Regions from separate parts of the Homo sapiens genome. Here region 2 is linked to region 1. The links come from fine-mapping of genetic effects on gene expression. A gene starts in region 1. The other region holds a variant in brackets. All regions are shown on one strand. Distances are from middle to middle. Region 1 holds the start of CDC25C (cell division cycle 25C). Region 2 overlaps BRD8 (bromodomain containing 8).

Evidence for each region. PIP is the estimated chance that this variant, and not a neighbour inherited with it, causes the effect.
Region 2: its variant is fine-mapped to the expression of CDC25C in nasal epithelium (TOPMed, PIP 0.94).

The regions. Positions count from the first base shown.
Region 1 is chr5:138,330,188-138,333,100 of GRCh38, forward strand. It overlaps CDC25C (cell division cycle 25C), which reads right to left and starts at 1,617. Exons shown (of 14, transcript NM_001790.5): 1 at 1,408-1,617; 2 at 800-1,031. The coding sequence starts at 993. It overlaps LOC100128966 (a long non-coding RNA gene), which reads left to right and starts at 1,918. Exons shown (of 4, transcript NR_146628.1): 1 at 1,918-1,998. RefSeq lists enhancers at 775-1,728, 1,440-1,569, 1,580-1,629 and a silencer at 1,680-1,939.
Region 2 is chr5:138,141,569-138,144,481 of GRCh38, forward strand. The region is part of intron 25 of BRD8 (bromodomain containing 8); the gene reads right to left. Among named protein-coding and RNA genes, the nearest start is that of NME5, 3.6 kb to the left of the region's middle. The variant T/A (reference allele first, on the strand shown) is at 1,447.

The DNA of each region.
Region 1 (2,913 bases):
ACAGATAATTTTTTTTTTTTTAAATGAGGCCCAGAGTTTATTGGCCGAGGGGGATCTTGACTCCACATTCCCGGTCCTGAGCACTATGAACACAGGCTTGATTTCTCCCTGGGGTCCCTAGTTTTTCTCAGGTACTACTTCTCTTTGCTAGTTGAGACATGGTATGATCAGAATTCAAAGTACAACTGCAATAACACTAATATTAATACTAATAAAGTGACCGACTCGTAATGCAGCGGTTTTCAAAGACTTTTCCCAGTTATCACATCATTTGATTCTCACAAGATCCTAGTAAGATAGGAAGCGATTATTATTTCTTTGTCTTTTCTTTTCTTTTTGAGATAGAGTCTCACTCTGTTTCCCAGGCTGAAGTGCAGTGAGGCGATCTTGGCTAACTGCAGCCTCCACCTCCCGGGCTCAAGCAATCCTCCCACCTCAGCCTCCCGAGTTGCTGGGACTATAGGTGCACACCACCACACTCAGCTAACTTTTAATATTTTTTGTAGAGACGGCGTCTTGCCATGTTGCCCAGGCTGGTCTTGAACTCCTAGACTCAGGCGATCCGCCCTCCTTGGCCTCCCAAAGTGCGGAGATTACAGGCATGAGCCACCTCGCCTGGCTGAGATTATTTCTTGTCACAGAAAAGAAGGTGAGACTCAAAAGGGTTACACAGTCAAGGGCAGAGTTGAGACTTAAAGCCTGACCTTTGAGCCGGGATAATTGAAAACAAACCAACAAACAAACCCAACTGTTTGGAAATAGCAAAGGCAATACAGTGTAAAAATAAAAGTATATTTACCCAGACAAAATGCTTAGGTTTGCAGAATCACCAAGAAATTTGCCCACTGGAGTTCTAGGGACATCTGGACAGACGGTAAAGGAAGTGTCTCTCTCCAGGAGCAGGTTTAACATTTTCCTTTGATTAGACCTAAAACTGGGTCCTGAGCCAGAGCTTCCTTCCTCTCTTGTGGATGAGAAGAGTTCCGTAGACATGGTCTTCGAATTCTCACCAGGAGAAAAACAAAACCTAGCTAGGAGGAAAACGTCATCTAAATCGGTACATCACAGTTCCCTCAGCTTTCCTAAACTCCTCCACCCTTTCCAGCCAGGCGAATCAACACTGGAAGAGGGGCAACCCCGAAGGGTGATTCACAGCCTGGCTTAAGGTTAGAACCTGAATTCACCGACGAGAGGCAACCTTAGGACCTTAAAGATGGAATGAAGAGAGGATTTTGACTTGTTCCACGCCACACAGCTCGAGACTCCTGACTAGAAAGAACCCGGGTCTCGTAACTCGCGATAGTCCCCATTCGGCCCTCCCAACCTCTGTCTGTGGGGGCCCGACTGGACCCTAAGGGGGACAATGGGGTCTCCGTGATTCCGTGGCGGAGACGGCTGCGGACTTACCTCAAGCCTGGAGTCTGAGGCTTGCCTACAAGAGGAGAGAAAGTAGATAGGGATCGGACACAGGCGAAGACTTGAGCAGAATGAAAGGAAATCTAGGGGAAAGGAGGTAGTTAACTAGATTGCAGCTCTGCCTTCCGACTGGGTAGGCCAACGTCGGACTCAGAGTCTTCCCTGAGCAGAAGGCCAAAGTTACGGCCTCTGAGCAAGAATATCAACAGCCGCAGGCGTTGACCATTCAAACCTTCCGCCAGCCCAGTAACCTATCCCCGCTCGCCTCTAAGCTGCGTCAGCCAATCTCCGCGCGCGCGCCCAGGGCCTCATGGCCTATCGTTGGGCTCGCAGATCACCTGGGGGCGTGTGCTTGCTCTGGAAATGGTAAGACTTGCCCCGCCCCATAGCCAGAGCAGGATAGTGTTTGGCCCACCAGCGTTAGGCAGGCTGCGGGGTAAGCTCCGCCTCACGGGGAGCCTGGCGCATCATTGGCTCTCCCTCTCACCAATCTCCACACCCTTTCTGTTTTCCTCGTTCCCTCAGCCCCACGAACCCCGGGAGATTTAAACCGCGCCTTACTAGTGATGTCCATTCACTAGGGTAATACTAGGAGAGATTATTTTGGGTGGAGGGTGTTGTAAGCGTTTCATTTTCTTCGCTTCTTTCTCGTGCCGTTTTCGCGGACGTTTTCTTCTAAGTTTTGCTGGCCTTCCACGGGAGATGGAGCGTTTGCTGCCGGCGTGGCAAGTGTTGGGGCGAGACGGGTGTGTGTGTTTATGCTGAGAGGCATTAGCCCCTTCCAAGAGCTTTGTTTGGTGTTTCTTTTAGTGTGCAGCATCTCAGAGACTCTAGCTCACGTGGGTAAAAAGAAATTCCGTTGCAGGGAAAGTGGAGGAATTAAATCATCTTGGTATAATCCTTATCGCAATCCAGAGGACCTCAAAGATTGGTTATTAATGAAAATTTGAACATTGACGAGGTGATATTTATAAATTATTGGCCGGACGCGTTGGCCCACACCTGTAATCCCAGCACTTTGGGAGGCCGAGGCGGGCAGATTACATGAGGTCAGGGGTTCAAAACCAGCCTGGCCAACATGATGAAACCCCGTCTCTACTAAAAATACAAAATTTAGCCGGTTGTGGTGGCACACACCTGTAATCCCAGCTACTTGGGAGGCTGAGGCATGAGAACTGCTTGAACTCGGGAGACAGAGGTTGCGCCACTGCACTCCAGCCTGGGCATTAGAGTGAAACAAACAAAAAGACATTCCTAATGTTAGGGATTTGCTTTTAAATAATCCTGTGCTGGGGGAAGGTATTGATGATACAAGATTGACCCTGACTGTTGAGTGATGGGGGCAGGAGGGTCCATCATATCTGTGCTTCTCAAGGTTTAATTTGCACACTAACCACCTGAGGACCTGCTAAATGCAGATTCTGATTCGGGATGTCTGGGTTGCGGTTGCGGCCCAAGATTCTGCCCTTCTAACAAGCCCCCAGCTGATGGTGAGGT
Region 2 (2,913 bases), 190 kb before region 1:
GAGGAGGAGTGCTGGCCCCAGGTATCAAAGTTGTAAAGAGCACCAATCATCAGTTTATCACACAGTAGTTATTTGCTGTTTACAATGTATAGTCATATATTATTTCATCTACTTCTCTTACTGCACAAATAAAAAGCTAAGAATAATTTTTTTCTCCTTTCATGGAGATGAAAAAAGGATCAAGTGAATATTAAGACAATATTAATGAGACACAGAAAGTAGATATATAAGAGAAGGCACAGCAGTGTAGAAAGAAGACTGAACTGCAGGTAAGAATCTGGGGCTTAGTTCTAGCTCTGCTATTAACTGTTGGTTGATCACGAGCAAGTCATGACCAAGCACCTCTGAGCTTTAGTTTCCTCATTCCTAAAGAAGTTTGTCTCTGCTGTTTGAATGATGGTATCATTGTCTCTGCTGTTTGAATGATGGTATCCCCTCCAAAATTCATGTTGAAACTTAATCCCAAGTGCAACAGTATTAAGAGGTGGAGCCTTTGGGAGGTAATTAATTCATGAGTGCTCTGCCTTCATGAATGGGATTAGCATCCTTATAAAAGGGCTCCATATCGAAGAGAGTGCCCTCTTATCCTTCTGTCCCTTCTGCCATGTGAGGATACAGCATTCGTCCCCTCTGCAGAATACAACAACAAGGCATCATCTTAGAAGCAGAAGCAGAGAGTAACCCACCTCACACACCAAAACTACCAATGCCTTGATCTTGCACTTCCCAGCCTCCAGAACCAAAACAAAGAAACATAGATTTCTATTATTTATAAATTATCCAGCCTGTGGTATTGTGCTATAGCAGCACAGACTAGTGACTCTCCAAAGGTCCTATCATGATCTTTTACATTCTATTACCATACAGGTTTATGACAGCATTTTAGATGACCTATGCTATAAAAACCCAAAATAGGCCGAGCACAGTGGTTCAAGCCTGTAATCCCAGCACTTTGGGAGGCCGAGGCAGGCGGATCACGAGGTCAAGAGATTGAGACCATCCTGGCCAACATAGTGAAACCCTGTCTCTACTAAAAATACAAAAATTAGCTGGGCGTGGTGACGTGTGCCTGTGGTTCCAGCTACTCAGGAGGCTGAGGCAGGAGAATCACTTGAACCCGGGAGGCGGAGGTTGCAGTGAGCCGAGATCTCATCACTGCACTCCAGCCTGGTGACAGAGCAAGACTGTCTCAAAAAAAAAAAAAAAAAAAAATCCAAAATAGGCTAGGATTACCTGCCTGTAATCCCAGCATTTTGGAAGGCTGAGGTGGGAGGATTGCTTGAGACTACGAGCTTAAGACCAACCTGGGCAATCTAGTGAGACCCCATATCTACAAAAAATTTAAAAATTCCTCCTCAGTGATATTCTGAAGAAAAATAAAGTTATTAATAACATTTCAAACAAAGAAAATATTTTATTATAATAAAAATATCAGGCCAGGCACAG[T/A]GGCTCACACCTGTAATCCCAGCACTTTGGGAGGCTGAGGTGGGTGAACTGCATGAGCCCAGGAGTCTGAGACAAGCCTGGGCACCATGGTGAAACTCTATCTCTATAAAAAATACAAAAATTAGCCGGGCATGGTGGCACACACCTCTAGACCCAGTTATTAGGGAGGCTGAGGTGGAAGGATTGCTTGAACCTGGGCAGTTGAGGCTCAGTTATCCAAGAAATGTGCCACTGCACTCCAGCCTGAGCAACAGAGTGAGACCTGTCTCAAAAAATAATAGTAAGTAAAAATTTAAAAAATAATAAATTTAAAAATTAGCTAAGTGCAGTGGCACATGCCTGTAGTCCCAGCTACTCCGGAGGCTGAAGTGGGAAGATTGCTTGAGCCCAGGAGGTCAAGGCTGCAGTGAACCATGATTGCACCACTGCACTCCAGCAACAGAGTGAGACCCTGTCTCAAAAAAATTTTTTTAAATAAAAAATAAAAATAAAATCCCAAAATACTGAGAGGTGAAGCTGGCTGGGCTTCTGGGTTGGGTGGGACTTGGAGAACTTTTCTGTCTAGCTAAAGGATTGTAAACACACCAATCAGTGCTCTGTATCTAGCTAAAGGTTTGTAAACACACCAATCAGCACTCTGTAAAAACGCACCAATCAGCGCTCTGTGTCTAGCTAAACATTTGTAAATGCACCAATCAGCGCTCTGTGTCTAGCTAAAGCTTTGTAAATGCACCAATCAGCACTCTGTAAAAACGCACCAAAAAAGGTTTGTAAACGCACCAATCAGCACTCTATAAAAATGGACCAATCAGCACTCTGTAAAATGGACCAATCAGTACTATGTAAAATGGACAAATCAGCAGGATGTGGAGGAGGCCAAATAAGGGAATAAAAGCTGGCCCCTCAAGGCAGCAGTGGCAACCCGCTGGAGTCCCCTTCCACACTGTGGAGGCTTTGTTCTTTCACTCCGCAATAAATCTTGCTGCTCCTCACTCTTTGGGTCCGCACTACCTTTATGAACTGTAACACTCACCGTGAAGGTCAGCCGCTTCGCTCCTGAAGCCAGCAAGACCACGAACCCAACAAGAGGAATAAACAACTCCGGATGTACCACCTTTAAGAGCTGTAACACTCACCGCCAAGGTCTGCAGCTTCACTCCTGAAGCCAGCGAGACCACCAACCCACTGGGAGGAACGAACAACTCCAGAGGCGCCACCTTTAAGAGCTGTAACACTCGCTGTGAAGGTCTGCAGCTTCACTCCTGAACTCAGCGAGACCACAAACCCACCGGGAGGAAGAAACTCCGGACACATCTGAACATCCGAAGGAACAAACTCTGGACACACCATCTTTAAGAACTGTAACACCACGAGAGTCTGCAGCTTCATTCCTGAAGTCAGCGAGACCAAGAACCCACCGGAAGGAACCAATTCCGGACACAATACTACAATCAACCAATGTTCATA